Homo sapiens: one gene and its partners. The protein of the gene in region 1 interacts with the protein of each later gene in a biochemical or structural test. Each region holds a gene or a part of one and is shown on either strand. Other genes may lie near its edges. The genes, in order: H4C1, CREBBP, PRMT5 and KMT5A.

Evidence for each region.
Region 2: of the proteins of H4C1 (region 1) and CREBBP, one has a biochemical effect on the other in vitro, tested with the Homo sapiens proteins (7 studies listed by BioGRID).
Region 3: of the proteins of H4C1 (region 1) and PRMT5, one has a biochemical effect on the other in vitro, tested with the Homo sapiens proteins (6 studies listed by BioGRID).
Region 4: the proteins of H4C1 (region 1) and KMT5A are reported together in a solved structure, tested with the Homo sapiens proteins (6 studies listed by BioGRID, with this or other methods).

What each region holds. Positions count from the first base shown.
Region 1 is NC_000006.12:26,017,280-26,023,454, forward strand, and holds H4C1 (histone H4), read left to right. Parts: upstream 1-4,369; 5' UTR 4,370-4,399; coding exon 4,400-4,711; 3' UTR 4,712-4,771; downstream 4,772-6,175. Other genes in the region: H1-1 (histone H1.1), read right to left, coding at 1-453; H3C1 (histone H3.1), read left to right, coding at 3,211-3,621. UniProt on the Homo sapiens protein: Core component of nucleosome. Nucleosomes wrap and compact DNA into chromatin, limiting DNA accessibility to the cellular machineries which require DNA as a template.
Region 2 is NC_000016.10:3,723,716-3,731,267, reverse strand, and holds the end of CREBBP (CREB-binding protein), read left to right. Parts: coding exon 1-76; intron 77-1,393; coding exon 1,394-3,550; 3' UTR 3,551-6,214; downstream 6,215-7,552. UniProt on the Homo sapiens protein: Acetylates histones, giving a specific tag for transcriptional activation. Mediates acetylation of histone H3 at 'Lys-18' and 'Lys-27' (H3K18ac and H3K27ac, respectively).
Region 3 is NC_000014.9:22,925,581-22,934,097, forward strand, and holds the start of PRMT5 (protein arginine N-methyltransferase 5), read right to left. Parts: upstream 3,797-8,517; 5' UTR 3,782-3,796; coding exon 3,672-3,781; exon of another isoform or gene 3,646-3,671; coding exon of another isoform or gene 3,587-3,645; intron 3,036-3,586; coding exon 2,917-3,035; intron 2,632-2,916; coding exon 2,546-2,631; intron 2,081-2,545; coding exon 1,946-2,080; intron 1,323-1,945; exon of another isoform or gene 1,235-1,322; coding exon 1,122-1,234; exon of another isoform or gene 976-1,121; coding exon 926-975; exon of another isoform or gene 881-925; intron 717-880; coding exon 553-716; intron 1-552. UniProt on the Homo sapiens protein: Arginine methyltransferase that can both catalyze the formation of omega-N monomethylarginine (MMA) and symmetrical dimethylarginine (sDMA), with a preference for the formation of MMA.
Region 4 is NC_000012.12:123,378,818-123,387,802, reverse strand, and holds the start of KMT5A (N-lysine methyltransferase KMT5A), read right to left. Parts: upstream 3,672-8,985; 5' UTR 3,605-3,671; coding exon 3,595-3,604; intron 1-3,594. UniProt on the Homo sapiens protein: Protein-lysine N-methyltransferase that monomethylates both histones and non-histone proteins. Specifically monomethylates 'Lys-20' of histone H4 (H4K20me1).

The DNA of each region.
Region 1 (6,175 bases):
CTTGACGCTCTTTTTGCTAGCCCCCGTGGCCTTTTTGAGCTTTTTAGATGCACCCGTTGCCTTAGTTTTTGTAGCCACCTTTGAGGCGCCGGGCTTGGTTTCCACGGAGGACGCCTTCTTGTTGAGCTTGAAGGAACCCGAGGCTCCGGTACCCTTTGTCTGCACCAACGTTCCCTTGCTTACCAGGCTCTTAATGCCCAGCTTAATGCGGCTGTTGTTCTTCTCCACGTCGTAGCCTGCGGCCGCCAGCGCCTTTTTAAGAGCTGCCAACGACACACCACCACGCTCCTTAGAGGAGGAAGCAGCCTGCACGATCAGCTCTGACACGGAAGGGCCAGCGGGTTTTTTCTTGGAGGCTGCTGCAGCCTTAGCAGGTTTCTTTGCCTTCTTGCCAGCTAAAGGTTTCTCAGGAGCAGCAGAAGCGGCGGGGGCGGGAGGCACTGTTTCAGACATGGTGACTAACACAGCACACCAAATAAAGTGGTATAAACCTGACGAAGCAGGATGCGAAAAAAAGGCCCCAACGCAGCCTATTTATAGGGTGGGACTGCGCCGTGATTGGTGCCCGTCAGTGCCCGCCCCTCGCGCCCTAGCGCCCCCTGCGCGCTGCCGAGGGTTTCGCCCAGTCTCAGAAGGCAGCTGGGGGCCTCTAGGGCCTATGGTCCTGCTCCCCTCAACGCAAGCAAACACACAGAAAAAGCCGCTCTGGTTGCCTCATTGTGAAGGAAATTGTAGGCAGACTGCCGCCCAGTAACATCAGAGGGTACCGCTTCTCTCTCAAAAAGCAGCTCTTTTTTAGGGAGTAGGTTGAGAGGGGGCGGTTTACAAATGCAGTGCCACAAGCATCCGAGGAGTTTTATTAGAAATTTTTAGAGGTCCGTTGCCAGAGATGTTAGTTTTTAATTTGCAAGAAATGTAAAATACAGTGTTTTGAATAGTTGCGGAGGGAGAGAAAAGTGCGAGTTTTAGGCCGTGTTAGGGCCAGTTGTCATCAACTCTATTACATTTTCTGGCAATGTTTTAGAGCGATGTGTCTCGCGAATACCTTTCACGTCAAACAAGAATGAATCGTAGACAACACCAGAATTCACAAACGCTGCAATTAATACTCAAACTGCAAGTGTGGAAACGTTTCTGCACTTGCAACTTATTTCCACAGTCCAATGTGGGATGCACTTCAGGAATTTCCAATGCCCTTTTCATCCATACAACATGCCCCAAATTGGTATTAAGGTTTACAACCTGTGTTCCATGTCAGCACACGCAATCAGCGCACCATGACATGGTCAACTCATTCTTTTATTCAACAAATATTTATGGGCCTCACAAGCCTGCGAAAGGCGTTAAATGCTGGGTCCACGAAACCGGTTCCCTGACAGGCATTCTGCTGGGGAGTTAAGTCCACTTAGTGTGAAAGCAAACACGGGTGATAAATGCAAGCACACCCTGGGGATAAGATTTTATGGTAACAACCCTTTAACTTGTTTGTGGCTGTTAAGTGCATTTCAAAGTATCAATAAGCTAAAACGATCTCACATTGCCAATCAGAGACTCAGCTAATGGGAGAATAAAAAACTATTAAATCGACATCCACTTCTACAATCCTATTCTGGATAACCCCCTAGCACAGCACAGCAGAGAGTGAGGTAATGCGGTCTTATTTCCGCTCCTGCTGTGGTAGTTTTCAAATAAGTCCGAACCATGCTAAGTAACCTGAGCTTTTCCCCTTTTTGTTCAAACAACGTGCCAACCAAATAATGGAGTGGTCCCAGATAAGTATTGTACCCATCTTCTGCACCAGTGCTTCCTACGTCCCATTTTATTGAGAAGGCATGCATTCAAATATTTCACGTAATTTCTAAAAATTTGGAAAATAACGGTTGGAAACTCTACATCTTGGTTTGACGGCTAGTCAGTTATGAAACACAGGTATACAAAATTGGAAGATTTTTGTAAGTAAACCCTTTGTGAAAGATATAAACCTTTCTTAGTGTAATAAGCGAGGTATCTGAAAAAACGCAACTTTTGAAAAGGAAATACTCCTAATTATCTGATTCAGGAGTTTCCACTTTAAATAATGGGTTCTGCCTCCCTTTTTTCTATTGGGTTAAACTGGTTTCAAATAAAATGGGAACGCTCCATGCAAATGAAGGATGATAGATCTGCTTTCTAAATGGCTGTTCAAGAAAATAGCCTAAACCAATCAAAAGATAGAATGTGGCCTGTCTCTTGTGAATTTAAAAAGGTCACAATCCACTTTTCAGTGTTTTGAGATTTTCAAAATGATTGCATTAGCTCTTGGCAATGCTAAATTATGTTCCTTGCGAACCACTATCCAGTTTCTCTTGGGCCAAGTCCACCTCCTGCTCCGCAAGAGGAACAACTCCCAGCTGGTGGTACCTGGCGGCAGTGCTGGAGAAACGCCATTTTGTGACTGGCAGAGTACACCTAGGCTTTAGAAAACAAAAGCTGCAGAACGCTGCAAGTTTAGGATTCAAAGAGCATAATCAAGAGAAAGACGTCTCATAGAAAATGTTTCTGAGTAATAGTGTAATCCTACTATGTTTGAGATGCTTTGTAGATTTCAATAACACTCCTAAGTCAATTAAAGCATTACAAAGGAATCCAATTCTTGTGAAAGGTTTCAGAAATTCCCGTAAAGGGTACATTTCCGGAGAGGAGGTGAGCAGTATTCCCTCTTTTTTTTTTTTTTTTTTTTTTTCCTAAAGAGCTGAAGGTTATACGGAATTGGGGAATTATAATACCTTTGGAATCAATGCCTTGTTTTATGGAAAATAAACACAGCCTTCAGGTTATGAAAACCAGATGTAGAAGAGGACAAGTTTAAAAAATTAAAGTCCAAGCCGGCGCAGTGGGGCTCCCCTGTAATCCCAGCTACTCTGGATGCTGAGGCGGGAAGATCCTTTGAGCCCAAGTTTAAGACCAGCTTGGGGAACAAAGCAAAAGTAAAATAAAATAATAGTAGTAATAAAATACCACTTAAATAATCATCTGTAGAGTTGGAATAGAATATAGTAGCCGGTGAAACTGCACGATTGTTGCTGGCTTAAAGATAGACCAATCAGAGTGTGTAACGTCATATTTAGCGTCTTCTATCATCCAATCACTGCACTTTACACACTATAAATAGAGCAGCTCATGGGCGTATTTGCGCTAGTGTTGGGTGTTCCGCTGTGCTGTTTTTCCGTCATGGCTCGCACTAAGCAAACTGCTCGGAAGTCTACTGGTGGCAAGGCGCCACGCAAACAGTTGGCCACTAAGGCAGCCCGCAAAAGCGCTCCGGCCACCGGCGGCGTGAAAAAGCCCCACCGCTACCGGCCGGGCACCGTGGCTCTGCGCGAGATCCGCCGTTATCAGAAGTCCACTGAACTGCTTATTCGTAAACTACCTTTCCAGCGCCTGGTGCGCGAGATTGCGCAGGACTTTAAAACAGACCTGCGTTTCCAGAGCTCCGCTGTGATGGCTCTGCAGGAGGCGTGCGAGGCCTACTTGGTAGGGCTATTTGAGGACACTAACCTGTGCGCCATCCACGCCAAGCGCGTCACTATCATGCCCAAGGACATCCAGCTCGCCCGCCGCATCCGCGGAGAGAGGGCGTGATTACTGTGGTCTCTCTGACGGTCCAAGCAAAGGCTCTTTTCAGAGCCACCACCTTTTCAAGTAAAGTAGCTGTAAGAAACCAATTTAAGACAAAAGGGAATGCATTGGGAGCACTTTTCGTTTTAATGCTACTGAAGGCTTCAAAACCAATCGATTTCGGCCGGTCGCGGTGACTCACGCCTGTAATTCAAGCACTTTGAGAGGCTGAGGCGGGCGGATTACCAGAAATCAGGAGTTCGGGATCAGCCTGGCCAACATGGCCGAATCCCGTCTCTACGAAAAATACAAAAACACGCCGGGCGCGACGGCGAGCGCTTGTAATCCCAGCTACACTCTGAAGGCTGAGGCAGGAGAAACACTTGAACCTGAGAGGCAGAGGTTTCAGTGAATCGAGATGGCTCTAATGTACTCCAGTCTGGGCGACAGAGAGATTCGGTTAAAAAAAAAGTTCGACTTAAAATAATTCTGGAGTCAGAATGGGTTTACATTTAATTCTTAACCCAGTTCCTCAAAGCCTGTAGCTCTGTTAAGAAAATAAAGGCCATTGGTCAAGCCTGCTTGGTCCCACCCTCATCTCCCCACCCTCCCCCAATCGCTGCTCCCGCCATTTCCTGGGGCTTGGAGGAGGGGTTAAAGGAGCGGACTGTAGGCGTCACATTTCCCGCCTGCGCGCTTTTCAGTCTCAGTGTCCGCTGGAGGTGGGGGCAGGGGTAACGTAGATATATAAAGATCGGTTTCCTATTCTCTCACTTGCTCTTGGTTCACTTCTTGGGAAGTCATGTCTGGACGTGGTAAGGGCGGGAAGGGTTTGGGTAAGGGGGGTGCCAAGCGCCACCGCAAGGTGTTGCGTGACAACATCCAGGGCATCACCAAGCCGGCCATCCGGCGTCTGGCCCGGCGTGGCGGTGTGAAGCGGATCTCTGGTCTGATCTACGAGGAGACTCGCGGGGTGCTCAAGGTGTTTTTGGAGAACGTGATCCGTGACGCTGTCACCTATACGGAGCACGCCAAGCGCAAGACAGTCACTGCCATGGACGTGGTCTACGCGCTTAAGCGCCAGGGACGCACCCTTTATGGCTTTGGCGGTTAAGGTTGCTGATTTCTCCACAGCTTGCATTTCTGAACCAAAGGCCCTTTTCAGGGCCGCCCAACTAAACAAAAGAAGAGCTGTATCCATTAAGTCAAGAAGCTCAATGTGTAATTAAGATGAATGATACTGAGCTGACATCCTAAAAAGGAAAGATTAGGGGAACTCCAAGTTTGCCCTCCACTCACTACATATGGGTAGGGGAGCAACGATATTCCAACTCTGAAGAAAGAGTGGAAAAAAAGTAGTGTTAAAAATTTGTATTAGTTTCCAAGGGACAAAGAAGCGCTGCCCAATCAATGAGGGCCATTCGTAGCTGTCAACCAATCAGAACTGATGAGCTAATATTTCCTGAGGCAAGCCAGGGAGCCGGAGGGGAAGCTAAGAAGCTTATTGAGAAAAAACAAAAACCCTGTTTTAGGAAAAAAAAAAACCATCTTTTAGCGATTATGAAATAAAATCACAGAGACATTTAAGTATCCCTCAATCATGTACTGAGAGCAATACTAAATTTATCGCCACCAATACAGTTTTACTCTATTAAAAAGACCCTGAAAATTGAAACCCTATTCAGACTCCTGGAATACCCAGGACACTAAATTCAGGGGAGATTAAAATCTGTTTTAGAGAGAAAAGGCACCTTTTTCAGTGTTACCGCGGCCTTCAGCAGTTAACCTTTTTTTTTCCCCCTTTACGCAGAAATGGAAATTTGGGTGATAGAAATATTCCGAAATTAAATTGTGATGATGGTTGTACAACTAAGAAAACACGGTAAAATTCATTGAACTGTACCTAAAGTGGGCAAATTTTGTGGTACATTAAATATCAATAAAGCTGATTATATACATACACATATATTTTTATATATGCAGAGAGAGAAATGATGCAAGCAGGGTGGTAGGACATGAGGTTGGTAGCATAGGCAATGTTGGTCTGTGAAGGGCCACCTGTGCTAAACCTGGAAGCCTGGGGTTTGTCCAGTCAAGCCATGGTAGCCATAGTTTTAAAGGATGTTCCTGATGCAGTTATGTGTTCCAGTTAAGTACATCTAGCTTCAGAACTCAGCTGGAAAAGGGATGTGAACTTCAGGTTAGCTGATAGGGAAATATCTTACTCTCATCTGAGTAAATATTCACAAATGCCTCTCATTGTGCTCTTTTTGGTACCATTGTTATAGGACTGATTTCAGCCTCACGATGTTAGCTTCAGTGATGGATGTCTCTTTATTTTGAGGTCCTGTTTTCCACCTGACAGTTTTCATCCAGGATTTCTTGAGGAATTACACAAGTACCCAGCTTGGCTTAATTTAAAACTGACAATGGAGAGAATTCATAGCTGCATTCTGGATAGTTTCAGGAATCAGAGGAGCAAAAATGAGCCTGGTATGGAGGGTGGGTCATTTTATGTCTTTCTTAGTTGGTATTTTAAAGATATTTATTGATCTCATATGCCAGATATTGTTGAAAT
Region 2 (7,552 bases), on another chromosome or scaffold:
CCAGGACCGCTTTGTCTACACCTGCAACGAGTGCAAGCACCACGTGGAGACGCGCTGGCACTGCACTGTGTGCGAGGTAGGCCCTGCCCCCACCCCCACCCCCACAGCCGGCCTGGGGTCTGACGAAGCATCCTGTCCCTTTGCATGGGTGCCCGGGTTGGTGTCTGTACCTGATGGTGGCTGCACTGACTCCTCCAGAACTAGGACAGCGTCACAAGGCAGAAGGCGTTGCTGTGTGTGTGTTTCCTAAACCTGCTCTGTGTAGCCACAGCCACAGGCCTGACCCTGGGGACGGCCAGAGGGAGGCTCTGCTGGGAAGTCTGGCCTGTCTGTGCCCAGTTCTAGTCTTGCTAAATGGCTGGAAACACCCGCTGTCCTGTTGGCAGCTTGGGCCCCTCTGGCCACTTGTTCCTGAAGGACCCCCCGGTCATGCTCCCTCACTCCCCTCTAGGAATTTTGACCCCCCTGTGAAATGACGTGGGTGTCCCTTGCATGGGCCGAGTCAGGCTGTGCAGGGCAGGCAGGTGACAGATCCCACCATCCCCCTCCCAGGACAGTCACCATCACCTGCCAACCCGGAGCCTCCTCACTTGCTGTGGTGTCTGTAGCGGGGCAGAGCGGGTCCTCAGCAGAGCGAGGGCCTTTCTTCCCTCCCCACCTTCACACACTTCTTCCGCTTTCCACCTTTCTCCAGTCTCCTTTGTCCTCTTTCTAGTTTCTGAATGCGGCAGTTTTCATATCTTTTTGTGAACACAGTCATGGTACCTGGTCCTAGGGCTCCATCAGGTTGCCAGGTGCGAGCAGTTTTCAGTAACTTGGGCTTGCGCGTTGGGGAAGTCCCACTGGTGCACTGCGGATAGCTCAGGCCTTCCCAGAGGCACTTCACGGCAGCTGTCGGCGCTTTGGGAGGGACCGGCCTCCCTCAGCCTTTCACTGTCTGGCTTCATAGTTTGAGTACAGGAGTTGGACAGGCTGTGGCAAGGGCTGATGTGACTCCCAGGTCAGAGGAAGTCGGAAGGAAGGGGGCTGGTGTCTACTGTCCGTGAGCTTACAGGCCAGGGGTTCTTGGGGCATGGGTCAGGTTATCTTTGAGCCTTCAGGGCTGTTGCCAGGAGTGAAGGTCCTTGGGAGCAACACATAGGCAGTCCATGCCCCCGTCCTGTCCATGATCCCATGTTGTCCATGATCCCATCCCGTCCATGATCCCATCTTGTCCGTGCTCCCGCCCTGTCCGGGTCTCCCACCTGTCCGTGCTCGCATCCTGTCTGGGTCTCCTATCCTGCCTGGGTCTCCTGGCACAGACCCAGACTTAGCGGTGGAGGGAAGCAGCCAGGATGCCTGGTGGTACTGGGTCCCATGCTGACACCGGCCTGTCCCCTTTCCTTGCTTGCAGGACTACGACCTCTGCATCAACTGCTATAACACGAAGAGCCATGCCCATAAGATGGTGAAGTGGGGGCTGGGCCTGGATGACGAGGGCAGCAGCCAGGGCGAGCCACAGTCAAAGAGCCCCCAGGAGTCACGCCGGCTGAGCATCCAGCGCTGCATCCAGTCGCTGGTGCACGCGTGCCAGTGCCGCAACGCCAACTGCTCGCTGCCATCCTGCCAGAAGATGAAGCGGGTGGTGCAGCACACCAAGGGCTGCAAACGCAAGACCAACGGGGGCTGCCCGGTGTGCAAGCAGCTCATCGCCCTCTGCTGCTACCACGCCAAGCACTGCCAAGAAAACAAATGCCCCGTGCCCTTCTGCCTCAACATCAAACACAAGCTCCGCCAGCAGCAGATCCAGCACCGCCTGCAGCAGGCCCAGCTCATGCGCCGGCGGATGGCCACCATGAACACCCGCAACGTGCCTCAGCAGAGTCTGCCTTCTCCTACCTCAGCACCGCCCGGGACCCCCACACAGCAGCCCAGCACACCCCAGACGCCGCAGCCCCCTGCCCAGCCCCAACCCTCACCCGTGAGCATGTCACCAGCTGGCTTCCCCAGCGTGGCCCGGACTCAGCCCCCCACCACGGTGTCCACAGGGAAGCCTACCAGCCAGGTGCCGGCCCCCCCACCCCCGGCCCAGCCCCCTCCTGCAGCGGTGGAAGCGGCTCGGCAGATCGAGCGTGAGGCCCAGCAGCAGCAGCACCTGTACCGGGTGAACATCAACAACAGCATGCCCCCAGGACGCACGGGCATGGGGACCCCGGGGAGCCAGATGGCCCCCGTGAGCCTGAATGTGCCCCGACCCAACCAGGTGAGCGGGCCCGTCATGCCCAGCATGCCTCCCGGGCAGTGGCAGCAGGCGCCCCTTCCCCAGCAGCAGCCCATGCCAGGCTTGCCCAGGCCTGTGATATCCATGCAGGCCCAGGCGGCCGTGGCTGGGCCCCGGATGCCCAGCGTGCAGCCACCCAGGAGCATCTCACCCAGCGCTCTGCAAGACCTGCTGCGGACCCTGAAGTCGCCCAGCTCCCCTCAGCAGCAACAGCAGGTGCTGAACATTCTCAAATCAAACCCGCAGCTAATGGCAGCTTTCATCAAACAGCGCACAGCCAAGTACGTGGCCAATCAGCCCGGCATGCAGCCCCAGCCTGGCCTCCAGTCCCAGCCCGGCATGCAACCCCAGCCTGGCATGCACCAGCAGCCCAGCCTGCAGAACCTGAATGCCATGCAGGCTGGCGTGCCGCGGCCCGGTGTGCCTCCACAGCAGCAGGCGATGGGAGGCCTGAACCCCCAGGGCCAGGCCTTGAACATCATGAACCCAGGACACAACCCCAACATGGCGAGTATGAATCCACAGTACCGAGAAATGTTACGGAGGCAGCTGCTGCAGCAGCAGCAGCAACAGCAGCAGCAACAACAGCAGCAACAGCAGCAGCAGCAAGGGAGTGCCGGCATGGCTGGGGGCATGGCGGGGCACGGCCAGTTCCAGCAGCCTCAAGGACCCGGAGGCTACCCACCGGCCATGCAGCAGCAGCAGCGCATGCAGCAGCATCTCCCCCTCCAGGGCAGCTCCATGGGCCAGATGGCGGCTCAGATGGGACAGCTTGGCCAGATGGGGCAGCCGGGGCTGGGGGCAGACAGCACCCCCAACATCCAGCAAGCCCTGCAGCAGCGGATTCTGCAGCAACAGCAGATGAAGCAGCAGATTGGGTCCCCAGGCCAGCCGAACCCCATGAGCCCCCAGCAACACATGCTCTCAGGACAGCCACAGGCCTCGCATCTCCCTGGCCAGCAGATCGCCACGTCCCTTAGTAACCAGGTGCGGTCTCCAGCCCCTGTCCAGTCTCCACGGCCCCAGTCCCAGCCTCCACATTCCAGCCCGTCACCACGGATACAGCCCCAGCCTTCGCCACACCACGTCTCACCCCAGACTGGTTCCCCCCACCCCGGACTCGCAGTCACCATGGCCAGCTCCATAGATCAGGGACACTTGGGGAACCCCGAACAGAGTGCAATGCTCCCCCAGCTGAACACCCCCAGCAGGAGTGCGCTGTCCAGCGAACTGTCCCTGGTCGGGGACACCACGGGGGACACGCTAGAGAAGTTTGTGGAGGGCTTGTAGCATTGTGAGAGCATCACCTTTTCCCTTTCATGTTCTTGGACCTTTTGTACTGAAAATCCAGGCATCTAGGTTCTTTTTATTCCTAGATGGAACTGCGACTTCCGAGCCATGGAAGGGTGGATTGATGTTTAAAGAAACAATACAAAGAATATATTTTTTTGTTAAAAACCAGTTGATTTAAATATCTGGTCTCTCTCTTTGGTTTTTTTTTGGCGGGGGGGTGGGGGGGGTTCTTTTTTTTCCGTTTTGTTTTTGTTTGGGGGGAGGGGGGTTTTGTTTGGATTCTTTTTGTCGTCATTGCTGGTGACTCATGCCTTTTTTTAACGGGAAAAACAAGTTCATTATATTCATATTTTTTATTTGTATTTTCAAGACTTTAAACATTTATGTTTAAAAGTAAGAAGAAAAATAATATTCAGAACTGATTCCTGAAATAATGCAAGCTTATAATGTATCCCGATAACTTTGTGATGTTTCGGGAAGATTTTTTTCTATAGTGAACTCTGTGGGCGTCTCCCAGTATTACCCTGGATGATAGGAATTGACTCCGGCGTGCACACACGTACACACCCACACACATCTATCTATACATAATGGCTGAAGCCAAACTTGTCTTGCAGATGTAGAAATTGTTGCTTTGTTTCTCTGATAAAACTGGTTTTAGACAAAAAATAGGGATGATCACTCTTAGACCATGCTAATGTTACTAGAGAAGAAGCCTTCTTTTCTTTCTTCTATGTGAAACTTGAAATGAGGAAAAGCAATTCTAGTGTAAATCATGCAAGCGCTCTAATTCCTATAAATACGAAACTCGAGAAGATTCAATCACTGTATAGAATGGTAAAATACCAACTCATTTCTTATATCATATTGTTAAATAAACTGTGTGCAACAGACAAAAAGGGTGGTCCTTCTTGAATTCATGTACATGGTATTAACACTTAGTGTTCGGGGTTTTTTGTTATGAAAATGCTGTTTTCAACATTGTATTTGGACTATGCATGTGTTTTTTCCCCATTGTATATAAAGTACCGCTTAAAATTGATATAAATTACTGAGGTTTTTAACATGTATTCTGTTCTTTAAGATCCCTGTAAGAATGTTTAAGGTTTTTATTTATTTATATATATTTTTTGAGTCTGTTCTTTGTAAGACATGGTTCTGGTTGTTCGCTCATAGCGGAGAGGCTGGGGCTGCGGTTGTGGTTGTGGCGGCGTGGGTGGTGGCTGGGAACTGTGGCCCAGGCTTAGCGGCCGCCCGGAGGCTTTTCTTCCCGGAGACTGAGGTGGGCGACTGAGGTGGGCGGCTCAGCGTTGGCCCCACACATTCGAGGCTCACAGGTGATTGTCGCTCACACAGTTAGGGTCGTCAGTTGGTCTGAAACTGCATTTGGCCCACTCCTCCATCCTCCCTGTCCGTCGTAGCTGCCACCCCCAGAGGCGGCGCTTCTTCCCGTGTTCAGGCGGCTCCCCCCCCCCGTACACGACTCCCAGAATCTGAGGCAGAGAGTGCTCCAGGCTCGCGAGGTGCTTTCTGACTTCCCCCCAAATCCTGCCGCTGCCGCGCAGCATGTCCCGTGTGGCGTTTGAGGAAATGCTGAGGGACAGACACCTTGGAGCACCAGCTCCGGTCCCTGTTACAGTGAGAAAGGTCCCCCACTTCGGGGGATACTTGCACTTAGCCACATGGTCCTGCCTCCCTTGGAGTCCAGTTCCAGGCTCCCTTACTGAGTGGGTGAGACAAGTTCACAAAAACCGTAAAACTGAGAGGAGGACCATGGGCAGGGGAGCTGAAGTTCATCCCCTAAGTCTACCACCCCCAGCACCCAGAGAACCCACTTTATCCCTAGTCCCCCAACAAAGGCTGGTCTAGGTGGGGGTGATGGTAATTTTAGAAATCACGCCCCAAATAGCTTCCGTTTGGGCCCTTACATTCACAGATAGGTTTTAAATAGCTGAATACTTGGTTTGGGAATCTGAATTCGAGGAACCTTTCTAAGAAGTTGGAAAGGTCCGATCTAGTTTTAGCACAGAGCTTTGAACCTTGAGTTATAAAATGCAGAATAATTCAAGTAAAAATAAGACCACCATCTGGCACCCCTGACCAGCCCCCATTCACCCCATCCCAGGAGGGGAAGCACAGGCCGGGCCTCCGGTGGAGATTGCTGCCACTGCTCGGCCTGCTGGGTTCTTAACCTCCAGTGTCCTCTTCATCTTTTCCACCCGTAGGGAAACCTTGAGCCATGTGTTCAAACAAGAAGTGGGGCTAGAGCCCGAGAGCAGCAGCTCTAAGCCCACACTCAGAAAGTGGCGCCCTCCTGGTTGTGCAGCCTTTTAATGTGGGCAGTGGAGGGGCCTCTGTTTCAGGTTATCCTGGAATTCAAAACGTTATGTACCAACCTCATCCTCTTTGGAGTCTGCATCCTGTGCAACCGTCTTGGGCAATCCAGATGTCGAAGGATGTGACCGAGAGCATGGTCTGTGGATGCTAACCCTAAGTTTGTCGTAAGGAAATTTCTGTAAGAAACCTGGAAAGCCCCAACGCTGTGTCTCATGCTGTATACTTAAGAGGAGAAGAAAAAGTCCTATATTTGTGATCAAAAAGAGGAAACTTGAAATGTGATGGTGTTTATAATAAAAGATGGTAAAACTACTTGGATTCAAAGATGGTTCAGATTGGCTAATGACTTACAGTTAGCTCAACGGCTCGTCATTATAGGATTGCAGATGCGGGCCCGGTGCGGTGGCTCACGCCTGTAATCCCAGCACTTTGGGAGGCCAAGGCGGGTGGATCATGAAGTCGGGAGTTCGAGACCAGCCTGGCCAAGAAGGTGAAACCCCATCTCTATTAAAATACAAAAAAATTAGCCGGGTGTGGTGGCAGGCGCCTAGAATCCCAGCTACTCAGGAGGCTGAGGCAGAGAATCGCTTGAACCCAGGAGGCGGAGGTTGCAGTGAGCCGGGATCGTGCCACTGCACTACAGCCTGGGCAACAGTGAGATTTTGTCTCAAAAAAACGATTGTAGGTGGTGCTGGCCGGGCTTGGTGGCTCATGCCTGTAATCCCAGCACTTTGGGAGTCTGAGGCGGGCAGATCACATGGTCAGGAGTTTGAGACGAGCCTGGCCAATATGGTGAAACCCCATCTCTACTACAAAAAATACAAAAAATTGGCCGAGGTGTAGTGGCTCACGCCTGTAATCCCAACACTTTGGGAGGCCAAGGCAGGCAGATCACGACGTCAGCAGTTCGAGACCAGTCTGACCAGCGTGGTGAAACCCCGTCTCTACTAAACATACAAAAATTAGCTGGGCATGGTGGCGCACGCCTGTAATCCCAGCTACTCAGGAGACTGAGGCAGGAGAATCACTTAAACCCGGGAGGTGGAGGTTGCAGTGAGCCAAGATTGCACCACTGCACTCTGGCCTGGGCGACAGAGCAAGACTCTGTCTCAAAAAAAAAAAAAAAAAAAAAATATTCAGCCGGGCATGGTGGTGTGCACCTGTAGTCCTAGCTACTAAGGAGGCTGAGGCAGGAAAATCGGTTAAACCCAGGAGGCGGAGGTTACAGTGAGCCAAGAGCGCGCCACTGCACTCCAGCCTGGGCAACAGAGTGAGACTTCATCTCAGAAAGAAAAAAAAAATTGCAGATGTTCAGTGGAGTTTTTCTCTACAGAGCATGTGTTTGATGCTATCTTTGAAATTCTAGCATGTTAGAAACATAGAATGAGCTGTCCCTGGATAATGTGGCATGGAGAGGCTTCTGCTTCTAAGATCTCAGGTTGGGCTGGGCATGGTGGCTCACGCCTGTAATCCCAGCACTTTGGGAGGCTGAGGTGGGCAGATTGCCTGAGCTCAGGAGTTGACAACCAGCCTGGGCAACGTGGTGAAACCCCGTCTACTAAAATACAAAAAATTAGCCAGGCGTGGCAGCATGCGCCTATAGTCCCAGCTACTCGGGAGGATGAAGCGGGAGAATTGCTTGAACCCAGGAGGCAGAGGTTG
Region 3 (8,517 bases), on another chromosome or scaffold:
AGGCCGAGGCGGGTGGATCATTTGAGGTCAGGCGTTCAAGACCAGCCTGGCCAACATGATAAAACCTGTCTCTACTGAAAATACAAAAATTAGCCGGGCAGTAGTGGTGCATTCCTATAATCCCAGCTACTCAGGAGGCTAAAGCAGAAGAATCGCTTAAGCCTGGGAGGCAGAGGTTCTGGTGAGCTGAGATGGTATGGCTGCACTCCAGTCTGGGTAACAGAGTGAGACCCTGTCTCAAAAAAAAAAAGAAAAAAGAAAAAGCCCTCTTATGCCATGAAAGTATCAACACCCAAACAGCCTCATGGATCCTTGCTGTAACTTCCTAAATGAAACCTTCTGCAAAGTTCTCATGAGGTTTGGTTTGTTTTGAAAGGTTTCTAGGGCTACTACTGGCATTTACCTTTTTGTTCTCAAGATTCCCAACTTCACTGAAATTGCTCCCCAGAAACCAAAGAAAAAGAGTCAGCCTCACAGGAAAAAACGATCATACACAGGTAAATAAGGCAAGATGTATAGCTGGACTACCTTTAGAACCCTCCTACCACTCACCTTGAGGAGCCGGAAGATGAGCCTCTGGTGCATCTTAGAAAGAACAGGAAATCCCTTCTTATTGGTCAGGAAAATGCTAGTGGGGAGAATGGCTGCTTTGATGGGCTCCCCAAGCCAGCGATCAATGACATGATTAGATGGGAGGTCAGCCCCAATTTCAAGAGCTACATGAGGCAAAAGAAAAACTGTCAACCACTGCCAGGCAAGAAACCCTTCCTTGCTCCTTTGCGCAAAATCTGTTTACTTCTTTAAGAGAAAGCCAGTCTGAGACAGAGGGGAAGTAGCAAAATTGTATACTATATATGAAATTCCTGATTCTTATTCACAGGAGGTAAGAGAAGCCACACCCATCCCAGGATTCTCATGGACTCACCCACTGCAATCCTCTTACTATAGTCACACAAAGTCCGGAAGTTGTGCCACCTGTTCAGTCAAATACAGAAAAGTACAGTAAACTAGATATGGCCGACCAATCACCACAGCTCAAGGAGACCTCCCTACAGGTTGCACCCTGTACTTCCCCTCACCCTATCCCTTGCACCCTGGTACAGCAGCAAAGGGAGACATACCACATCCACGTTTTCTCCTCCCCACTGTACTCCTCTGTGTGTGTAGTTGGTGCATTCTCAATTATATCATCTCTCAGGTCCTCTGGTGCCACCAAGGGTACCCGCATCCAGAACTGCACATGAACAGTCACCCTTTTAGAACTCTCTTTTGAACTCATTGGGTCCAGAAAGTTTCCCTCAATAAAAAAAACTTCATCCAGACCTCGTTAATCCCTTTATATGCTTTTCCCAATTTGTAATTTTGTAAGTGAACATGTACCTTATATATAGATCCTTATGTAAATATCTGCCTTGTCTTACGTAAGTTTCCAAAATAATTACATTTACATGTTTTGAAACTCTCTTCATACCACTTTTAGATGGAGAGGTGCGCAATACTGACCTTTTTTTTTTTTTTTTTTTGAGACAAGGTCTGGCTCTGTCACCCAGGCTGGAGTGCAGTGGTGCAATCTCAGCTAACTGCAACCTCCGCCTCACAGGTTCAAGTCATCCTCCCACCTCAGCTTCCCAAGTAGCTGGGACTACAGGCGTGTGACACCCCACCTAGCTAATTTGTGTTTTTTTGTTTTTGTTTTGGTTTTGGTTTTTTATACAGACAGGATTTCACCACGCTGCCCAAGCTGGTCTCGAACTCCTGAGCTCAGTGATCTGCCCACCTCAGCCTCCCAAAGTGCTGGGATTACAGGCATCACCCACTGTGCCCGCCAATACTGATACTTCAATTCTGCCAAACACACCCTTCACTGAATGGCTAGGCACAAGAAGGTACTTAGCACAATCTGACTACTATGATATGCAGCAGGAAAGGAGCCCCTCAGCTATACCATGGAAGAGTGATGGCCAGTGTGGATGTGGTTGGTCAAAACTCTGGCCAGGTTGGTGTTATCTTCCTGATTAAGGGGCAGCAGGAAAGCTGGAAGACCCAAATATGCACCAAAATTCAGCTCCTGTAACATGGCCTGGAACGGAGATGAAGAGGAAAAGTTTGAGCTAACAAGCAAACAGCTTTTTTTTTTTTTTTTTTGAGACAAAGTCTCACTCTGTCACCCAGGCTGGAGTGCAGTGGCACAGTCTCCACTCACTGCAGCCTTGACCTTCCCAAGCTCAACTGATCCTCCCTCCTCAGCCTCCTGAGTAGCTGGGACCACAGGCATGCACCACCATGCCTGGCTAATTTTTGTATATTTTATAGAGATGGGGTTTCACTACGCTGCCCAGGCTGGTCTCGAAATCCCGAGCTCCAGTGATCCTACAGCCTCAGCCTCCCAAAGTGCTAGGATTATAGGTGTGCACCACAGCACCCAGCCTAATAGCTTTAATTTCATTCTATCAGTTAATTTACCAAGTTATTGGGGATGGGAGGGGACCACTCTCCCCACCCAGCTTGGTTAGAAAAATCCAGCAGAGAAGTCAAACAGTCTTACCGCCTCGGAGTTCCTGCGAATCTTCTCCACTTTTGAGTCTGGACGAATCCATGGAGAAAGCTTTCCCACAATTAGCGTATTCCAGTCTGCACTCCCCCACCCAAGAAAGACAAATACTGAATAAGGTTCAGCACTTTACTTGTTCAATTTTTAGTTTTGGGAATCAAGAGTAGAAATGAGAGACAAAGGTTTTTTCTACATAGACATGGGATAGCCTGATGCAGAATAGAGAAGCAAGGAGAAAACAAGTTATCTATATCCCAGGGACTAACAAATATATCCAAGTCAGAAAAGGAGGAGAATGAGGGCCCCGATAAAGCAGAAGTTGTTATTGCCTCTAATAATTAAGGGGCATATGGGATGGTCCCTACCCCTTCCTGACAGCAGTAGGTCTGATCGTGTCTGGGGACCGGGCCGATTCTTAGCAGGTTCCTGAATGAACTCCCTCTTGAAACGCGGATGGAAGACAGGCATGCAGAGGAAATCAAACCTACAACCGCGACAGACCCAGAATCATGTAAAGACAGCAGCAGTGCCAGAGAGCCAAGCAACTGGATTTAGGCTATCTTGATTTTGCACAGCCCTTTCAGCTGCCATCAGTTCAGCCTACTAGGCTGCTGAGTTCAGACCACCTTGGGGGATATCAACTCTGCTGTACTGTGCCTCAATTTCTCCCTAAAACACAGCCATGGGACATATGAGTAAGGAGAAAATGATGGATATCCACAAGTAGAATTTTTTTCTCCTCAGGTGTCAGTATGTTTCCAAGACCATCACATCCAGATTTGCCCCAGTTCTGCCCATGCCTCCCCCGTCAAAATTAGCCTCTTCTCTCCCTTGCCCCCTAACACCTCCTCCCACTCCCAGACAATAATCGCGACCTCCAGGGCCCTTTAGAGTTTACCCAACAACTCTCCCAACTTTGGGACTCAGTGACCACAGGCCTCCCACAAGTTATTTTCCTCACGTTACTGGGTCCGAGGCTCCTCCCCTCCAAAGAGTAATAGTCTCTCCCCTCCTCATCCTAGCCGACCCCCTCACCCCTGCTTCTCCGGGATGACTAGTCTGCCCTTCTCCGTCCCCGAGTTCGGACCCCGCATTCCGCTCGTGGAGGTCCGGCCCTCACCCCTGCTTGGCCACAGCCCCTAGTGTGTCAGCTATTTCGGGGACGCAATTCAGGTCCCTCCCGCTGGACACGCGGCTCCCACCAGCACCCCCGACCGCCATCGCCGCCATCTTTCTCCTCGCGCTGTCCACGCCGGGATTCCTTGATACTAGTAGCCAATCACAAAGTCAAACTAGTGCCCCAGAAGGCGGGACGAGTCGCCTTAACAACCAGAGCGTCTGCCACAGCTCCCGAACAGGAGGGATGGGGAGTGGCTTTTCCTGCCAATCCGCGGGCTGCACAGTGGCGTACGGCATGGATCCACCAATCTCAGGGTCTGGTTCCTGACGAACTTCAATCTCCCAGAATGCTTAGTCTATCTGAAGAACGCCGTTGAGAGACTACACCGCCCATGAAACCCTGCAGTATAACCTTGAAGTACCATCACGGAGAGAAACAGTGCCATCTCAGGGCCAGTGGCGCAATGGATAACGCGTCTGACTACGGATCAGAAGATTCCAGGTTCGACTCCTGGCTGGCTCGGTGGGGTTCCTCGCAGCTTCGCTGCGTGAGCATTTTGTAATTTTCCTTTCCTTTCGCAGCTTGATGCTTCTTTATTATCTTCACGCTTTCATTATCAGATCCTGAGTCGGTTGGGTTATGCAGCCATGTAATGTCAGCTTTTCCCGTAACTACCCTCAAAAGTGTTTTTCTTGTGTCATTATTTACGTCCATATGAACACTGAGAAAACTGGGTTAATGGCTGGTGCTATTAAAATGAGCTTTGTCACCTTACTATGTTACATATTAAAATAAACTGCTAACTCAGCTACTACTTCCTAGTGATTCTAGGAAGTAGTGTTTTGTGTTTCAAACACAAAAGGTGTAAATAAACGCCTAAACACACACACACACCTCAAGATAGAGAAAAGGAATTCATTAATTACAGTGGGCAGCAGTCATGAAATTGGCTGGCATGGAGGCCAGAGAGAATCTACATTTTCTCATGTCATTAGCTGCTAGAGATGGAAAGGAAGGAAGCAAGGAAAGACATAGGGAGGTAAATGGGAACTCCAGAAGGCAGGGGGCCCACTGGTGTTGAGGGCTCGGCAGCAAGGATGGAGAGGAGAACACGGTACAAGAGACCCCACGCAGGCGCCGCTGGCAGAACTTAGGGACCGACTGGCAAGGAGTCCTGAGAAAGCAAAGTAGGGGGTGATGCCTAGGATTCTGTCCATGCAGTGAGCAAGAAATGCGGAAAGAGGGTTTGGGAAATCAGGGTTTGGGTTTGGTCATGCTGAATTGAACGTCTAGGGGGCGCTGTGTAATAGAAAGTTGGATGGAGGTCGCTAGAAGAAAAGAACTGAGGCCATGCGACTGAGATCACCATAGCTCGTTGGGGACAGAGCCATAGGAAATACGAAAAGGGTGTGGGGTAGGATAAGTTCTGGGGAACCCTGGGTGCAATGCAAGTGCCCCAAAAGAATGAAAGCCGGAAAACCGGCCGGGCGCGGTGGCTCACGCCTGTAATCCCAGCACTTTGGAAAGCGGAGGCGGGTGGATCTCCTGAGGTCAGGAGTTCGAGACCAGCCTGGCCAACATGAAAACTCCCCGTCTCTCCTAAACGTGGTAGCAGGCGCCTGTAATCCCAGCTACTCGGCCAGCTACTCGGGAGGCTGAAGCAGGAGAACTGCTTGAACCCGGCAGGCGGAGGTTGCAGTGAGCCAAGATCACGCCACTGCACTCCAGCCTGGGCAACAAGAGCAAAATAATGTCGGGGCAGGGGGAGGAGGAAAGGAAAGTCGGAAAAACCAAAGCATTTAAAAAATGCACCATGAAGGCCAGGCTGGGCACAGTGGCTCACGCCCGTAATCCCAGCACTTTGGGAGGGCGAGGCGGGCGGATCACCTGAGGTCGGGAGTTCGAGACTACCCTGACCAACACGGAGAAACCCATCTCTACTAAAAATACAAAATTTAGCCAGACGTGGTGGCGTGCGCCTGTAATACCAGCTACTCAGGAGGCTGAGGCAGGAGAATCACTTGAACCTAGGAGGTGGGAGGTGGAGGCTGCAGTGAGCCTAGATCATGCCGTTGTACTCCAGCCTGGGCAACAGCAAGACTCCGTCTCAAAAAAAAAAACAAAAAAAAACCCCAGCACTTTGGGAGGCCGAAGCAGGCGGATCACGAGGTCAGGTGATCAAGACCATCTTGGCTAACACAGTGAAACCCCGTCTCTACTAAAAAAAATACAAAAAAAATTAGCCGGGTGTGGTGGCAGGCGCCTGTAGTCCCAGCTACTCAGGAGGCTGAGGCAGGAGAATGACCCAGGAGGCAGAGCTTGCAGTGAGCCGAGATCGTGCCACTGCACTCCAGCCTGGGCGAGAGAGCGAGACTCCATCTCAAAAAAAAAAAAAAAAAAAGCTCCATGAAGCCTGAAGTGATTGGAGGTGCTTTTGTCCACTATTATCGTTACTATTTTTCTGCTCCAGGATCCCATGCAGCATATCATATGACATTTAGTTGCTATGTCTCCTTAGGCTCCTCTTGGCTATGACAGTTTCTCAGATGTTCCTTGTTTTTGATGACTTTGGTAGTTTTGAGGAGTACTGGTTAGGTATATTGTAGGATGCCCCTCTATTGGAATTTGTCTGTTTGTCTCATGATTAGACTGTGTTTTGGGAAGGAAGGTCACAGAGTTAAAGTGCTGTTTTTGCCGGGGGCAGTGGCTCAGGCCTGTAATCCCAGCACTTTAGGAGGCCGAGGCAGGCAGATCACCTGAGGTCAGGAATTCGAGACCAGCCTGGCCAACATGGTGAAACCCCGTCTCTACTAAAAATACAAAAATTAGCCAGGAATGGTGGCATGCGCCTGTAATACCAGCTACTCGGAGGCTGAGGCAGGAGAACTGCTTGAAACTGGGAAGCAGAGGCTGCAGTGAGCCGAGATCACACCACTGCACTCCAAGCCTGGGTGACAGAGCGAGACTCCATCTCAAAAAAATAAAAGTGCTATTTTAATCACATCATATCAAGGGTACATACTATGAACATGATTTATGACTTAATGTTGACCTTGATCACCTGAAAAGAAGTAGTTTATCCAGTTTTTCCACTGTTAAGTGATTCTCTCCCACCCTCTCCCCGGCCCCAACTTTCCATACTGTATTCATTGGAAGGAAGTCACTATGCTCCCCCTCCTTAGAGTTGGAGTATCTACAGAATTTATTTGGAATTCTTCCCTCCAGGTCTTTCCAATAAATGGTTGTTCTCAGCAAGTGGGTGAGTACTCCACCAGCATTTTATTTATTTATATTTTATTTCATTTTTCATTTTATTTTGAGACAGAGTCTTGCTCTGTCGCCCAGGCTGGCGTGCAGTGGCATGATCTCAGCTCACTGCAACCTCCACCTCCCGGGTTCAAGCAATTCTCCTGCCTCAGCCTCCCAAGTAGCTGGGACCACAGGTGTGCACCACCATGCCTGGCTAATTTTTGTATTTTTAGTAGAGACGGGGTTTCACCATGTTGGCCAGGCTGGTTTCAAACTCCTGACCTCAGGTGATTCACCCACCTCGGCCTCCCAAAGTGCTGGGATTACAGGTGTGAGTCATGACGCCCCACTTTCACTGGCATTTTAAGAGGTAAAAGAAAGAGTTGTTGAGGAGGTCTGCTTGTTCTCTGCCCTAGTTGTGCCCAGCCAAACTCTACATTCACAGAAGACTTGTTAGATGTTTTTTCTTCTTTAGAAGCTAATTGTCTAGATTGTGGACCATCTGTGCTCCTGGCATCTCACTCCTGATGTCAAGCAGGTAGCTGCTCTGTTGGTTGTTAACTAACCCATCATGGGTGACAGGGAGAGAGGACAATCTATAAAACAATAATGTCAGTTTTGCCATCAGTTAAAGTAATTTTCTAAAGGATTCATGTAAAAAGAACCTAGAATTTCTGACTGACCCTAAAGTAAGTTTACATGGGCTGAATTTCTTTGGTCTGTGCTGTCTTTGTCTTTTCATTCCAAATGGCCTCGGCATTGTGGCTAGCATCATGCTGAACAGTTCTCAGTAACTCCATACCACGTTGCTCTCAGCCTTTTCTATAGCACTTTCCTGTGCCATAAAACACAGCATGTAACCGTGGGTCTGTCTACATGAGTTGTAGAGGAGCAAGAAGGGAAGGAATGAAGAGAAATAGAGCGCCTTGAACAGGTCCTGTCCCTAGGCGTTAAGTCAAAGTTGGTGAAGTCTACATTATGTTCTGCTTTGCTCTGCTCTGCATGCTGAGTTTTTGGGCCCAGAAGTGTGTGAATCACTGTTATACTATGGGACTTTTGCCTTGGCTGAGATGAAGATAGGGAAATGGTGGGACAGAAGGGCAAATACCCTGGGTGAGAAATAATGTTACTTTCTCCAACAGGAGCCAATGACCAATAGGCCAGAGCACTGGAGACTTTCTGGAAGAAAGAGGTACCCACTCCCAGATAATGCTCCCACTTATCCCCCTGGCTTTCCTCGCTTTCAGGCCCAATTCTTCCACCTTATCTTGTTCTTTTGTCCTTGTTTAAACACCTCTAGCCCATTGAAAACCTCTTGGCATCTTCTACTGTGCTCCCCTCCTCCCTCAGCGCTTGCCTCCCTCCCCAGGCCCACCTTCACTCATCTCTGTGCCTGCCCAGCCAGCCACACTCTTCAACACCAAAATAATGGCCTGTTTGACCCTCCTACTGCTCCAAATTTCTTTTTCACAATCAAGGCTGTACTCCAGCTATGAAAGTGGCAGAGTTACTGAGGCAAAATAATCTGTGCAGATTTGCATTCTCTTTTTTGTCATCTCTATTATACAGTGTTTATCTGTCAAAATGAATAGAAAGC
Region 4 (8,985 bases), on another chromosome or scaffold:
CCAGAGCACCTTCCAACATCCACAGATAAGCAAATGGCTGTTTGTAGCCATCCTCCCACCTAGCCTCCCTCGACTCCCATTGGAACGGATAAGACTGAGTAGGATTAGGTGGTGACAGGTCACTGCTCAGACAATCCCTCCCAAATCAGCTCATGCTTTAGCATCCTTCAAGGCAGGGTCTCCAGCCCAACCACTAACTCCAGTGGGCTAGGTACTCTGCCTATGCCCTCTGCAGAGCCTACTACAGTTGAATATCCAAAAGATTACCCAGAGGGTGAAAGAGGATTCGAAAGTGACACTCTGATAACCAGGTTGAGCCATTTGAAAGCGTCTTCTATTTCTGCAAGGCAGAGAAGTTTTGCAGCTTAACTGCCATGAGAATCATGGTTTTGGAGCAGGAAGCACCCACATAGATCATCTTATCCATTTCACATTCTAGTATACCGAGCCACACCCCACGCCCCACTCATGGTCATAGCTTTCTCTGCATTTGAGCCCCCAATTGCAGGGGACACATTACAAGTCTAGCACCTATTCCTCTCAATTCTGCAGCTCCAGTACCTAGAAGATGTAAATACAGATCATTCAATGTAAGTTTCAAAACAGTCCTTTCTCCGCAAGTTTATACGTATATAACAAATACACCAGCTGGGCGCAGTGGCTCACACCTGTAATCCCAGCACCTTGGGAGGCAGAGGAGGGCAAATCACCTGAAATCAGGAGTTTGAGACCAGCCTGGCCAACATGGCGAAACCCCGTCTCTACTAAAAATACAAAAATTAGCTTGGCGTGGTTGCGCATGCCTGTAATCCCAGCTACTTGGGAGGCTGAGGCAGGAGAGTCACTTGAACCCAGGGGGGTGGAGTTTGCAGTGAGCCAAGATTGTGCCACTGCACTCTATCCTGGGTGACAGAGTGAGACTCTGTCTCCCAAAAAAAAAGAAAAGTCTGTATTTTTGGAGACCCCCCCACCAGGTGCTAAGGGATAATGAACTGAAGATGGCAAAATGAGGAGGGCAACCAACCAAGAGACCATTCAACAATGGCAGTAGAAATAGTGAAAGGTAGGTGGACTGACCCCTGAGACTAATATATTGGGGTTGTAAATATTTGCATGATTATAAAACTTCAAAATGAGTGAGGTGTTGCCTGGCATCTGACCAGTTTGTTTCTGTGACCCAGCAGGGCTCTCAAAGTGAATTGCAAGTTCAAAGCCCAATTTTCTAGAAGAAAAAGACTGTTCATTTGAAGTGCTGTAAATGATTTGGTATTTACAATTCTAAATATTGGCCAGGCGTGGTGGCTTTTGCCTGTAATCCCAGCACTCTGGGAGGCCGAGGTGGGCAGATAACCTGAGGTCAGGAGTTCAAGACTAGCCTGGCCAACATGGCGAAACCCCGTCTCTACTAAAAATACAAAAATTAGCTGGGTGTGGTGACAGGTGCCTGTAATCCCAGCTACTTGGGAAGCTGAGGCACAAGAATCACTTGAACACAGGAGAGGGAGGGTGAAGCGGGCTGAAATCACTCCACTGTACTCCAGCCTGGGTGACAGAGAGAGACTCTGTCTCAAAAAAAAAAAAAAAAAAAAAAATCTAAATCTAAATATCCAATTTAATAGCTTGCAAGGGCAGTAAAGCCTAAGAAACAGGTAACTACTAATTTGGGGGTCAAGTGAGACAGTGAGAATCAATAACTAATAATTACATAGGTGATTTGTAAGCTGCCATGGGAGGAGCTGACAAACATTATCTTCGCTTTGGGTAAGTAAGGGAGGTTGGGTGGCACAAGCAAAGACCCAGCCAAGCTAGAGTCTGGACAGCAAGTTTGGACTTCACGCTTCCTCTTCCAAAAAATGAGAATAACAATTTGTAAAGATCAATTGAGTTAATAAAGTGCCTGGCCCTCAGTGGTAATTATTATTATTTTGTTATTGTTCTTGTTTGTTTTTTTGAGATGGAGTCTTGCTCTGTTGCCCATGCTGGAGTGCGGTGACGTAATCTCGGCTCACTGCAAGCTCCACCTCCCAGGTTCAGGCAATTCTCCCTGCCTCAGCCTCCCAAGTAGCTGGGATTACAGGCATGCGCTGCCATGCCCGGCTAATTTTGTATTTTTAGTAGAGACGGGATTTCTCCATGTTGGTCAGACTGGTCTCGAACTCCCGACCTCAGGTGATCTGCCCGCCTTGGCCTCCCAAAGTGCTAGGATTACAGGTGTGAGCCACCATGCCTGGCCATAATTATTATTTAGTCATATTTTAAGTATTTCAATGATAGATGGTTAGTTTTCTTCATATATTAATTAATGCACTACTTTTAAAACAAGTAGTTTAAATGATTTTGCTGTGATGAGAAAAATGAACCCAGGAAGCATAGTTTTATTAAAATTTGTCAGATAAATTAGTCAGATAATGTTAAATATACTTTTAGATGCTTAACACTTTTCAAAGGAAAAATATTAGTATTAATTTTCTCCAAGAGTTGAGTGATGAAGCTCTTTAACCTGAAGTTTACTATGCCTCATTTTTTCATCAGGCTCTGGGTAAGTCTTATCCCAAAAGAACCTCTAGGGATGCTAGGAGAATAGATGATGCAACTGACTTCAGGGCCTGAAAACAAAGGGACCCAATAGATATTTACTGAATGAATCATTATTTTATTCATTATTATTGCTATAGGGAGCATACTGCACTAAAGCAAATTCCTACTAACACTTGAAGCCTTGAAATTTTGAGAAAAATATAATACCAAAACTTTTTTTTTTTTTTAATACTAATTCTACTCAACTTTCACGCTCAAGTTTTTGGCCCTTTGGCGTGAAGGAGACGCAGTGGCTGGAAATGACCAAGCGGTTGGAGATCTCTTTGCCGCATACCTGGGAGGCACTGTCCTGACAGCCAACTAAGTATGCAGAGGACTTCAGACAGGGCATCGCCTCCCAGGGCTGTACAAGCCCACCCAAGCCATCTACCGGGGGGCGAAGTCCTGACCAGATGCGGGGCGAACGACCGCGCCCGCGAGATGCCAGGAACCCGTTTTACCCCAAAGTGGGCCAGCGGGGCCCGGCCTTCGCTCCAGCGGCGCAGAGCTGACTCAGGACGTGGGGAGGGAGGAAAGGCGCCTGCTGCGGTGTCCACCCTGACGCGCACCCCAATATGCAGGTTATCGATCTGCGCCTTCGCCTCGGGATCACCTCCTTTCCCAAAGAGAGAGGGCCCCAAAGTGGGCGAAGCCTCACTCCTGCCCCCGCCCCACTTCTATCAATAACACCTATTCCCTGGAGGTGCCCTGCGCTTTAGTTTCCAAAGAGCTCTGACATATGGATCTGCTGCCGTGGAGAGGCAGGCCCGCAGGTGTTCACTTCATAGAAGGGAAACAGAAGCACGGCAGTGGGAAGGGTTTCTGGGGGCATCTGGAGCCGCAAGGGGGGGCCGGCGGGTTCCGCAGCAGCACCCCCTCTCCCCCCACGCGGGTCCCCAAGCTTGCCCCGAGCCACCCGAGGAGGACGCCTCCCCGCAGCCGCTGCCTCCACCCCGGCAACCCCTCCAGCACGACCCCCGACCCAGCCGCTCCGGTGCCGGCCACTTGGGCAAATACCTCTAGCCATGGCTCCACTCTGTCACCGCCTGGGATCTCCCGGGAAACCCAGCTTTCGAAAAAAGTTGCAACAACTCAGCCAACTGCTCCGCCGGGCTCCAGCTGCTCGCCCCGATTGGCGCCGCCTCCCGCCTCTCCGCAGGCTGCCCGTAGTGATAGGCCAACTCGGAGAAAGGCCCCGCCCTTCTCCCGCCTCTTCGGCGGCGGGGCGTGTCCAGCCGCCGCAATAACTGCAAACGCTTTCCCGACAGGTCCCGGCGGAGGAGGTGGGAGGGGTGTTTAAATTTGACCGTCGCCAGACGTTGAATGGCTGCGATGGAAGACACCCGAGCTGCCATTGGGAGGCCCCAGATTCCTCCCCCTCCCGCTGCTGAAGCTCCGCCTCCGGAGCGTGAGTAGCCCGGCTGGAGCCCTGGGCTCCGAGCCGACCGGATCTGGGACTTCCGGTTCTCTGTGGGCTTGACCGGAACCCGACCTTTGACCCCTCGATCTTCCCTTAAGAGCTGGGAAACCTGAGTCTCCCAGCAGTTTAGCAACTCCAGCACACCGACCTCTCCAGCAGTTTGATCCATTCATTCTCAGGTTTGAAAGGTTTTGGCCGGGCGCGGTGGCTCATGCCTGTAATCCCAGCACTTTGGGAGGCTGAGGCGGGCGGATCACCTGAGGTCCGTGGTTCGAGACCAGCCTGACCAATATAGAGAAACCCAGTCTCTACTAAAAATACAAAATTAGCCGGGCGTGGTATCGCATGCATGTAATCCCAGCTACTCGGGAGGCTGAGGCCGGAGAATAGCATGTAATCCCAGCTACTCGGGAGGCAGAGGTTACGGTGAGCCGAGATCGCGCCATTGCACTCCAGCCTGGGCAACAAGAGCGAAACACTGTCTCAAAAAAAAAAAAAAAAAAAAAGGTTTATTGAATATTCCAGTATTCAAAACCCGGCCGGGCGCGGTGGCTCACGCCTGTAATCTCAGCACTTTGGGAGGCCGAGGCGGGTGGATTACGAGGTCAGGAGATCGAGACCATCCTGGCTAACACGGTGAAACCCCGTCTCTACTAAAAATACAAAAAAAATGAGCCGGGCGTGGTGGCGGGCGCCTGTAGTCCCAGCTACCTGGGAGGCCGAGGCAGGACAATGGCGTGAACCCGGGAGACAGAGCTTGCAGTGAGCCGAGATCACGCCGCTGCACTCCAGCCTGGGCGACAGAACGAGACTCCGTCTCAAAAAAAGAAAAAAAAAAAAACCCACAGACACAACTCCTACCAACTAACTGGGTCAGTAGGGAAGGTCCTTCCAGGACCGCAAAGATCCTAATGCTTCACACCCACCCATTTTACAGATGGGGCAATAGAGGAAGCGGGTCACTTACGCGCTGCCCAAGGTCACCCAGCAATGTAATTGCAGGGCCTGGGTCAGTCTCTCCACTGTTCAAACACTAAATGGCTACCTTATCCCGAGGGAAGCAAGTATTCGCTGTTCCCCTCTGAGAGAGGGGGCTCAGTCAGTATGTTCCCAGAGAATCAGGTGTCCTGGAGTGTCTGCTTTGGACTCAGGGAAGGCGTCCAGTTACTACTGCTCTTCCCTGGGGCCCCTCCCAGGGGTGTGGGACGAGGTCACTAATCCATCCTGTCTCTTTGGTAATTGAAAAGGTTTTGGAGACCCAACCATTGCCCAAAGACTCTTCCAAAGCACCAGGAAAATAGGAAAGGAAAATAAAATGATATATGTGAAAGCACTGGGAAAGGTAGAAAAGGACACTTTTGTCACAAAGTCACTGTGTCACTTGGCACATCAGTTCAGCTCTCTGGCCTTCCATTTCCCTACCTGTCAAATGAAGGAGCTGGTGCCGTAATCTCCAACATGCCTTACAGCTTCCATAAATATGTGGAAGTGTGGCAGTGTGCAGTGGCTCTCACCTGTAATCCCAGCACTCTGGGAGGCCGAGGCAGGTGGATCACGAGGTCAGGAATTCAAGACCAGCCTGACCAACATGGTGAAAACCCCGTTTCTACTAAAAATACAAAAATTAGCCAGGCGTGGTGGTGCGTGCCTGTAATCTCACTACTCAGGAGGCTGAGGCGGAGAAGTGCTTGAACCCGGGAGGCAGAGGTTGCAGTGAGCCAAGATCGTCCCACTGCAATCCAGCCTGGGCACCAGAGCGAGACTCTGTCTCAAAACAAACAAACAAACAAACAAAAAATATATATAGAGAGAGAGGTGTTTGCTTTCTCCAAAATTGATTATTTCAACATTTATTGAGCTCTATGCCTGCCGCTGTTTTGGATCCCCCAAGGATCCGAAGGGAAAGTAGACACAGCTCCTTCCCTGCATTCTTTTAGGGAAGAAACAAGGCATTATTTAAAAGATAATTTTAAGGCTGGGTGTGGTGACTCACACCTGTAATCCCAGCACTTTGGGAGGCTGAGGTGGGCGGATCACCAGGTCAGAAGATCGAGACCATCCTGGCTAACACGGTGAAACCCCATCTCTACTAAAAATACAAAAAAAAAAAAATTAGCCGGGCGTGGTGGCAGGCACCTGGAGTCCCAGCTACTCGGGAGGCTGAGGCAGAGCTTGCAGTGAGCCGAGATCACGCCACTGCACTCCAGCCTAGGCGACAAAGAGAGACTCCATCTCAAAAAAAAAAAAAGAGAAAAAAGAAAAAAAAGATCATTTTGTTTATTTATTTTTATTTTTCTTGAGACGGAGTCTCTCTCTGTCTCCCTAGGCTGGAGTGCAGTGGTTTGATCTCGGCTCACTGCAACATCTGCCTCCTGGGCTCAAGCAATTCTCCTGCCTCAGCATTCTGAGTAGCTGGAATTATAGGCGCCCACTACCATGGCTGGCTAATTTTTGTATTTTTAGTAGAGATGGGGTTTCACCATGTTGGCCAGGCTGGATTCGAACTCCTAACCTCAATTGATATGACGGCCTCAGCCTCCCAAAGTGCTGGGATTACAGGCGTGACCCACTGCGCTCAGCCCAATTTTTGTATTTTTAATAGAGATAGTGTTTCTCCATGTTGGCCAGTCTGGTCTCAAACTCCTGGCATCATGTGATCCAGCTGCCTCAGCCTTCCAAAGTGCTAGGATTACAGGCATGAGCCCACCACCCCTAGCCTAAAAGATTATTTTTATTTTATTTATTTTTTAAGACAGGGTCGCATTCTGTCATCCAGGCTAGAGTGCAGGGGCACGTTCTCGACTCACTGCAACCTCCACCTCCTGGGCTCAAGCAATTCTCCTGCCTCAGCCTCCCAAGTAGTTGGGATTACAAGAGTGTGCCATCATGCCCACCTATTTTTTTTTTTTTGAGACGGAGTCTCGCTCTGTCACCCAGGCTGGAGTGCAATGGCGTGATCTCGGCTCACTGCAACCTCTGCCTCCTAGGTTCAAGCAATTCTCCTGCCTCAGCCTCCCGAGTAGCTGGGATTATAGGCATGCGCCAAAACACCCAGCTATTTCTTTTTTGTATTTTTAGTAGAGACGGGGTTCCACCATGCTCCCCAGGCTAGTCTTGAACTCCTGGCCTCAAGTGATCCACCCGCCTCAGCCTCCCAAAGCGCTTGCCTTACAGGCGTGAGCCACCGCGCCCGGGCATATTTTTGTATTTTTGGTAGAGAAGGGGTTTCACCACGTTGGCCAGGCTGGTCTTGAATTCCTGACCTCAAATGATCTACCTGCCTTGGCCTCCCGAAGTGTTGGGACTACAGGCGTGAGCCACACGCCCATCCAAAAGATTATTTAATTTAATTAATTTATTTATTTTATTTATTTATTTTTTGAGACAGAGTTTCACTCTTGTTGCCCAGGCTGGAGTGCAATGGCACAATCTCGGCTCACCGCAACCTCCACCTCCCAGGTTCAAGCGATTCTCCTGCCTCAACCTCCCGAGTAGCTGGGATTACAGGCATGCGCCACGATACCCAGCTAATTTTGTATTTTTAGTAGAGACAAGGGTTTCTCCATGTTGGTCAGGCTGGTCTCAAACTCCTGACCTCAGGTGATGATCAGTCCACCTCGGCCTCCCAAAGTGCTGGGATTACAGGGGTGAGCCACCGCACCCGGCCTATTTATTTTTTGAGACAGAGTCTTGCTCTATCGCCCAAGCTGGAGTGAAGTGGCAGGATCTTGGCTCACCACAACCTCCGCCTCCCGGGTTCAAGCGATTCTCCTGCCTCAGCCTCCCAGATAGCTGGGATTACAGGCACCCGCCACCACACCCAGCTAATTTTTGTATTTTTAGTAGAGGTGGGGTTTTGCCATGTTGGCCAGGCTGGTCTCAAACTCCTGACCTCAAGTGATCTGCCCACCTTGGCCTTCCAAATTGCTAGGACTACAGGCATGAGCCACTGCTCCCAGCCCAAAAGATCATTATAAATAGTGATTAATGCTATAAGGAAAAAAGGCAGGCCAGGCCTGGTGGCTTATGCTTGTAATCCCAGCACTTTGGGAGTCCGTGGCAGGTGTATCGCTTGATCTCATAAGTTTGAGATCAGCCTGGGTAATATCCACATTTCTACCCTGTTCTGTGATACAGAGCAGCAAACCATAATTCCCCGTTCTCAGTTAATGTTAGGTTCTTCCAATGAGAGCAGATAGAAGCAGTCTGGGAGGCAGGAGGAAGAGAGGGGACTTGTTCTTGCCTGTTTGCTTACTATTCCTAGCATGTTCCCCTCAGTAATAACACTGCCTCTGGCAGTAGTATTTGGTTCAGTCTCCAGGTTCTTTGTACACTCCCAGAGACAGCCTCCTTGTGCTCCCGCGGAGGCACCAACAGCAGACCCCTCCTCAGAGTTTTGAGTCCCAACTACACAGGGCTCTGGGAGGCCCAGCACCAATCTGGTTGTGCCTCTTTCTTTTTTTCTTTCTGTCTTTTTTTTTGAGACAGAGTCTCGCTCTGTCACCCCAGTGGCACAATCTCAGCTCACTGCAACCTCTGCCTTCTGGGTTCAAACGATTCTCCTGCCTCAGCCTCCCACATAGCTGGAATTGCCGGCATGCACCACCACATCAGGCTAATTTTTTGTATTTTTAGTAGAGACAGGGTTTTGCCATGTTGGCCAGGCTGGTCTCGAACTCCTGACCTCAAGTGATCCGCCCACCTCTGCCTCTGAAAGTGCTGGGATTACAGGCATGAATCACAGCGCCTGGCTATGTGCCTCTTTCTTAGAGGGGTGAGAACGAGCTCTCCGGGGCTCTTCCTCCGATTTTGCTAGCTGTGCTAACCCCAACTTGTTTTTATTTTTATCTCCAGCTTTGGAGGTGGTAGCTGCTTCCTCTAGTTGTTATTTACATTGCCTCGGTGTTCCCTTTCTGCCTTCTCAGTCCTCTGTCACCCGTTTAATGAATTTCCTATTTTAACCTCTCTGTTTTCCTAACTGGATGCTG